Homo sapiens: one gene and its partner. The protein of the gene in region 2 purifies or fractionates together with the protein of the main gene of each other region. This does not show direct contact. Each region holds a gene or a part of one and is shown on either strand. Other genes may lie near its edges.

Region 1 (3,820 bases), on a different chromosome or scaffold from region 2:
GTAATCCTCCTGCCTCAACCTCCCTAAGTGCTGGGATTACAGGCGTGAGCCACCACACCCAGCCTCAGTAACTGCTCTATAACTTTGAGATATAATTCACATACCATAAAATTTACCCTCAAAGTTACAACTCGGTGTTTTCAACATGTTCACATACATGAGTCACCATCACCACTATCCAACTCCAGAACTTTTTTTTTTGAGACGGAGTCTCACTCCGTCGCCCAGGCTGGAGTGCAGTGGCGTGATCTTGGCTCACTGCAAGCTCCGCCTCCCGGGTTCACGCCATTCTCCTGCCTCAGCCTCCCGAGTAGCTGGGACTATAGGCGCCTGCCACCACGCCCGGCTAATTTTTTGTATTTTTAGTAGAGACGGGGTTTCACCGTGTTAGCCAGGATGGTCTTGATCTCCTGACCTTGTGATCTGCCCGCATCAGCCTCTCAAAGTGTTGGGATTACAGGCATGAGCCACCGCGCCTGGCCTAGCTTTTTTTTTTTTTTTTTTTTGAGACAGGGTCTCGCTCTGTCACCCAGGGTGGAGTGCAGTGGTGCGATCCCAGCTCACTGTAACCGCCTCCTGGCTCAAGTGATTCTTGTGCCTAAGTCTCCTGAGTAGCTGGGACTACAGGCGCCCACTACCACACCCGGCTAAGTTTTATATTTCTGGTAGAGACGGGGTGTTGCCATGTTTGGCCAGGCTGGTCTTGAACTCCTGACCTCACGTGATCCACTTGCCTCAGCCCAGAACATTTTCATTGCCCCAAAGACAACCAACCATGTGCCCATCAACAATTACTCCCTCTGCCCCTCCTCAGCCCCTGGCCATTTTGTGTCTCTGTGAATCTTTCTATTTTGGGCATTTCCTATAAAGGAGACCACACAGGTTCTGTTGTTTTTTTTTTCTTTTTTTTTTTTTTTGAGACGGAGTCTCACTCTGTTGCTCAGGCTGGAGTGCAGTGGTGCCATCTCGGCTCACTGCAAGCTCTGCCTCCCGGGTTTACGCCATTCTCCTGCCTCAGCCTCCCGAGTAGCTGGGACTACAGGCGTCCGCCACCACGCCCGGCTAATTTTTGTATTTTTAGTAGAGACGGGGTTTCACTGTGTGTTAGCCAGGATGGTCTCGATCTCCTGACCTCGTGATCCACCTCCCTTGGCCTCCCAAAGTGCTGGGATTACAGGCGTGAGCCACCGCGCCCGGCCAAGGTTCTGTTCTCTTGTGGCTGACTGACCTCACTTGGCATGGTGTCTTCAAAACTCATCCCTGCAGCAGCATGTGCTGGAACTGCCTTTCCGTGGCTGAGTCCTGCCCCACTGTGTGCACAGACCACGGGCTGTTTGTCCAGCAGACATTCGGGCCGCACCCCCTTGTCTGGCTGTTATAAACAGTGCTGCTGTGAACAGCTGTGTGCATGTTTCTGTGTGGAGTGTGTTTTCACTGATCTGGGGACACACATTCCTAGGACTGGAGCTGCTGAGTCTCGGTGTTTCTATGTTTAGCTTTTTGAGGAACTACCAGACTGTTTCCACAGTGGACGTGCCATTTTACGCTAGCATCGATAACACACGAGGGTTCTGATTTCTCCACAGCCTCACCAACGCCTGTTGCGGTCTGTCTTTCGTTTTTTTAAACTTACCAATTTAACTTAAGGATTGTTCCTTTCCTTAACAATTAACATGACCAATTTTAAACACAAAAAGTAACTTTCCAGGGATATTGCACAGGAGATGGAGAAGGAGGCCAGCAGGTGTGACAGGTGTGGGGTCCCACACCGCCACTCCAGGGGGGTGCTGGCATGTTTGGCCCCCGTGGGCTCCACGTAGGTCGCAGGGTTTCTTTGTATGTTTGTTTTTATGTTTTTGAGATGGAGTCTCGCTCTGTTGTCCAGGCTGAGACGGAATCTCACTTTGTCGCCCAAGCTGGAGTGCAGGGGGGCGATCTCGGCTCACTGCAAGCTTTGCCTCCAGGGTTCAAGTGATTCTCCTGCCTCAGCCTCCCGAGTAGCTGGGATTACAGGTGCCTGCCACCACGCCCAGCTAATTTTTGTATTTTTAGTAGAGACGCGGTTTCATCATGTTGGCCAGGATGGTCTTGAACTCCTGACCACAAGCAATCCGCCCACCTCGGCCTCTCAAAATGCTGGGATTACAGGCGTGAGCCACTGCGCTGGGCCTGTCACAGGTTTGTTTTTTTTTTTTCTGTTTTTTGAGATGGAGTCTTGCTCTGTTGCCCAGGCTGGAGTGCAGTGGGGCGATCTCAGCTGACTGCAACCTCCGCCTCCCGGGTTCAAACCGTTTTCCTGCCTCAGCCTCCTGAGTGGCTGGGATTACAGGCATGCACAGCTAATTTTTGTAATTTTAGTAGAGACAGGGTCTCTCCATGTTCGCCAGGCTGGTCTCGAATTCCTGACCTCAGGTGATCAGCCTGCCTCGGTCTCCTAAAGTGCTGGGATTACAGGCAGGAGCCACTGCTCCTGCCCAGGCTGCGGTTTTGAAGGACACCTTCCCTGTTCACCGTGTTGGTTTTAGCTCTGCGGCAAGCTTCTCTGTGCACCCCACCTCCCTGCAGCTCACTGCCCACAACACATGGATGTACCATGGGACAGCTGCAAGGACGGGTCAGGTGGCCCATGGGCTCTGGGGAACCCTTTCTGGGAGGTGCCAACAGCACATGTTGGGGTCACCATCACAGACGGGGCTGGGGCCAACAGTCCCCCATCAAGGGTGGGCTTTCCCAAGGACCCCAGTTCTGATCACACAAGGTAGAATCTGATGAATGATAAACAGCATTTAAAAACCATGTTTTATAAAAATACTTAATGGCATGGGAAAGGGTTCACAGAGCAGCATAAAGTCGCGTTGCCCTAAGGGGATCACGCTGCACGGTGCAAGGTCCCTTCTCAAAACCAGGCAGATGCACGTGTGAGGGCCTGGCTGCTCTGCCGACGGTGCCTCTGTGCTTTCTGTTTTGTATTTTCTGAATACTACACAATGTATACACCCTGGTTTGTATTCATGAACAAAGAAAAAACCATGAATGATATTTTTGAAGGTTAAAACTAGGATGGGATCTTAGCCTTAGCACCTCCACACCTCACCCATGGTGACAGGGCCTCTGCCTGCCGCCGGCCACTGCCAGCCACACCTGGGACCCACAGCCAGGGCTTTCGCTCTTCTGCAGTGCCTGAGGGCCAAGAATTCTGCGGTGGCTGGCTGGGTGGCCGCTCCACCAGGGGGAGGGCACTGCACGTCTCAGTCCTCAGCAGCCCGAGGTTCCCAGAGTGAGGGACCCACAGGGACAAAGGGGCGGACTTGGGGCCCTCACGACCTATCTCCATGTCACACAGCCTCTGCCACCTTCCCATCAGGCCGGGCACCCCCAGGTCCAGCTCACACTCCACCGCAGCTTCTGCACAGCCAGGGAGGGACCGCCGGCAGCCCACCGCCTCACCTCCCAGGTCTCCACCAGAAACATCCGGCCGGCCCAGCTGACCCCCGGGCAGGCGCCCGGAACCTCGCTGGTCCCCGGGCAGGCATCCGGACCCTCGTCAGCCCGGCTGCTGCTTCCCAAAGGTCCTCTCCACCCAGGACCCTAACACGTGCTGGGCAACCCGGCTCAGAGCATCATCCTGCGCCACGCCAGGCGGCCACCCTCTGAGGAGGATGGGGACGGGACACATCCAGGTCACACCGAGGTGGCACCAGGCGGTTCCAGGACCTGGTTCCCCGTGACACAAGGATCAACACCAAGGGTCGGTAGGCCGTCCCGCAGCCTAGCCTGGGGCTGTCGCGAGCTCGCAGGGGTGCTCTTGGAGGCGCCCCGG
Region 2 (3,820 bases):
TTCTCTTAATAATAATATACTAGAAGAAAGTGTTTCCAGTGAACTGAATATTCTACACCATTCAGAACATGACAGACTTCTTACTTAAGGTCATTCCGTACACTCAAACAAAGGCATGGAATTGGAAAGGATTCTATTAGATTGGCAGAAATACTTTTCTTAGTCTTAGGCTCATTTCACCTGTGGAAACCCCTTTAATCTGTCAAGTAGAACAGTATCCTCAGATGTGTCAAGGTGGGATTTTATGCAAGAAAATATGAGAGACAAATTGATAATGACAACTTCAATAAAGTATTCTGCCTGAATAGAAGTTACACAACTGAATTTATGTGAAATAATAAAAAATGTGTGTACTAAAATGAGATAAGATTCATTCAAAAACATCAAATTAAAGAAAGAATTGTCTCTGAGTCATATTATACTCCTGGAGCTCTGAGGATTTAGGATCATTTTATTTAGCTAGAGTGTTAAGATGTTTTCAAATAAATTCAGCAAAACTCAAGTTTCAGAGAAAAGTTTTAGTTCCACAATGAAAGTCTCTCTGGAAAACCTAAGACCAATTTAGAGGGGTCTTTGCTGAATTACCTTAAAAGAATGCATTGTGCTTGCTTTTCTTCGTTTAGAAAGCCAGGAGTCCAGCATATACATTATCTGAAGGACTTAGCAAAATTTCTAGATCAAAAACATAAGTAATATTTTGCTAAATCCCCAATTTGACATTTCTCAACTTTCACTAAAATGCTGATAAAAGCACAGTAAAAATATTGTTTTAAGAGTACATTTCTAATAAACTCAGTTATACCTCAAAAACTATAGTAAGAACATATATACTTGCTTAAAGAGTACACTTTGCCAGAAATTTCAGGCCTTCTAAGCACCTCTTCCAAATTTCAATGGAGCACAATGGAGATGGCACAGAGGGTGCCCGAAAGCCAAGGATCAGGTGCTCCAGCAGTTCTGATGCTGCAGAAAGAACAAAGGCCACGGCGCCGGACTTGCTTAATGTGTGTGAGGAAGTGCGGAATGAAAGAATGTTTATAAGATGCTCTGAGTTCCCTGAAGACATTACTATATAGTTTAGGGCCTCAACTTTAGGGGCTCTAGTATTAAGTAGCATTTTTGCTTTATGAAGTGTTAATAATCCATGAATTGTCAATTCTATAGCCCTTCAACTAATTTAACTGTGGCAGAATGTATGAGATGAAATCGTTAAAACCATTAGATCTCTTTAGTGGCTAATCCTTTTCATAAAGGAAAGCAAAAATATTACCTGTCTCTGCACTACATTGATATAATAGTAGGAATATTCAGTGCATAAATTGGGGGTTAGAAAAGCCTTCATTTTTGCTTTTCAATGTGTGAATTATATTTTCAAAGAAGATTTAACTTCAAACCCATTACTCCTCATAATGCATTTAAATGTAAATCTTCTTTGAAAGAAGAAATAAAGATATTCACATTTACATGAATGTATGAAATGGATGGACTGTATTCTTCAGGCACTCCTAATTCTAAGAGGGAATTTAGGGATTCAAGAAGACCCTGCGATATCACCTTAGTAAGTGATGTCTTAGGAAAGTAAATTTTCCGATACATAAAATTTCCTTAGCTTAAAAGAGAGAACCTGCCACATAACCTGCCTTCAATCCACAAAGAGATGTGAGAAACAAGTGTCAACAGGGCAGGACCCGGCAAAAACTTATAAAATCATGTCTCATAAAACTCTCATAGCAACAGTATTGCTCTTAATGCTAAAGTACATAAAATCCACACCATGTAAGTAATAGTGTTTAGGAAGAATGATTGAAATATGCTCCAGAATATTATTAACAAGAATAATAGTAACAGAGCACACCACAGTTACTACAGAATTAGCACCACAGTTATTACAGAAAAAAAAAATACTGGACTTGGATTTGGAAGACTTGGGTTCTAACCTCAATTTGAGACTTGCTCATGAGGTTTCCAGCAGTCACCTAGCTTCACACAGCTGGTTACCTATTTTACCAAAGAACCCTCTATTTTTAGGTCTCCACCCTACCGCAGTCTCTTAGTCAATCTGATTTCTGACTAAGATGGGAAGTATGGAGAGTGGCTCTGCCCACTAGGCAGTGGAGCTTGAAATCTAGCCACAATTTCCACTGCTGGGGTTGAACAGCTCACACTTTATAGCTGGGTTCTTGCCATTACTAAATGTCTAATTTCCTTTATTTCCAATAGATGTATGATCAAGTGTGCCATGAGCAACCACTGTGTTTTAACTTCTGCATTGCAGAACTCCTTCTTTGGTTCCCTCTCCACTCAGCATTCTTTCTGAGTCTTGTCGGATGTCCCCAGATCTTTGAGATCTTCCCTGAATTCTTGGTCAACCCTAAGTAAATAAATAATTCTTCCCTAACTAGCCTCCATAAGCCCTCTCTTTCAGGTGTTAGATACTTTTCCCCTTAATCTATGTCTCCTTGAAGGATTTCAAAATGCTGAAAAATCCACCTGCTGAATTCTACAGCCAGCTTTCCTCTGAGACTATGCCTTACTTACCAGATTGGCTGTCATTTTCCACTGCATTCATAAAAGTCACTTGAGTTCATTATGAATTTAGACATTCTGCCATGTCAATATTTGCACATCTATTAGTTCTTCCCATGTCCTATCTTATGCCTAATAATGGAGCCTCTGCCACCTGCTTATCCCTGCTCTGCCAAATCCTATGCCAGAGGTCCCTGCATTCTTCCAACAAAACCCACATGGATTTTCACAATGAGAACCAAGCAACATCATGAATGTGAAATGTAGCATGCACTTTGTAGGCGGTATTGGTTGTTGATAGAGGCGCTATGGCTGCACTCTGGTTCTGTTCTTCTTGGGTTTGTTTCCTTTCTTGGGTCTCCATTCCCAGATTCCACATTCACAATTATTTTCAAGGGTTAAAATGATCAGATGTAAGATGTGAGTTTTCTCAGAACCTTGCTACTTATCTAACATAAATGTGATGTCCTGCAGATGTTACTATAAAACTTACTCTTTGATGCCTTCTAACAATTTGAAGTTTAAGTTATCTTCACTCCTGTCAAAGAAACCCTTGTTGTCTATAAAAACCAAATGCCTTGGGTCATGCTTTCGCTGGATAATGTGTGCTAGAGCCGCAGAACCTTGGTCATCACATTTTGGCCTCAATCCATTCTGTACACAGGCATCTTCCTTGCGAGGTCTGAATCCACAGCAATTTGTATCTAAGCGATTATAAATCTGTAAATGGAAAACACAAAATCCAAGATGCTGAGTGAAAACAAAACTTGGGAAAGTTACAAGATTTTCAAAGATCAGTGCTTTCTGAATAGCTGACTTGCCAGAATCTAAGAGGGCCAGGCTCATTTAATTAAAGGCAACTGTCAGAACAAGTCCAAGGTTCATATCCTTCTGACTCAGTCATAGTTATAAGCATTTCCAGCTTCTGCTAATAGATCCAAAGTCAGATTATCCAAGTTAGGCATCTCCACCCTAAATATTCAAAGTTCCCACTGACATCACATACAGACACATGGCCAGCACAATCTCTGACTCCACGCACAGCAGAAGAAACACCATTGTACTTCTATGTGTCTGGAAGGCTCTGTCTTGTTTTCTCCCTCAGGTGGCTTATGGGAAATTGGAGTTACTTCATTGCCACAAAAAGTTTATTGCATCCCCTAGCCTATCTGGACTTCAGTATTACAGTAAGCTAACTTGAAATCACATAGAAGAAATCTATTGAAAAGATGTGAGACCAAATCATAAAACCTAAAAGCACTATCTAAATGGAGGCCACAGCTAGATTCTAAAC

The links.
Region 1: the proteins of GASK1B (region 2) and EXD3 purify together in Homo sapiens (affinity purification with mass spectrometry; one large-scale study listed by BioGRID and IntAct). This does not show direct contact.

The regions. Positions count from the first base shown.
Region 1 is NC_000009.12:137,413,018-137,416,837, forward strand, and holds part of EXD3 (exonuclease mut-7 homolog), read right to left. Parts: intron 1-3,820. UniProt on the Homo sapiens protein: Possesses 3'-5' exoribonuclease activity. Required for 3'-end trimming of AGO1-bound miRNAs.
Region 2 is NC_000004.12:158,127,767-158,131,586, forward strand, and holds part of GASK1B (Golgi-associated kinase 1B), read right to left. Parts: intron 3,247-3,820; coding exon 3,020-3,246; intron 1-3,019.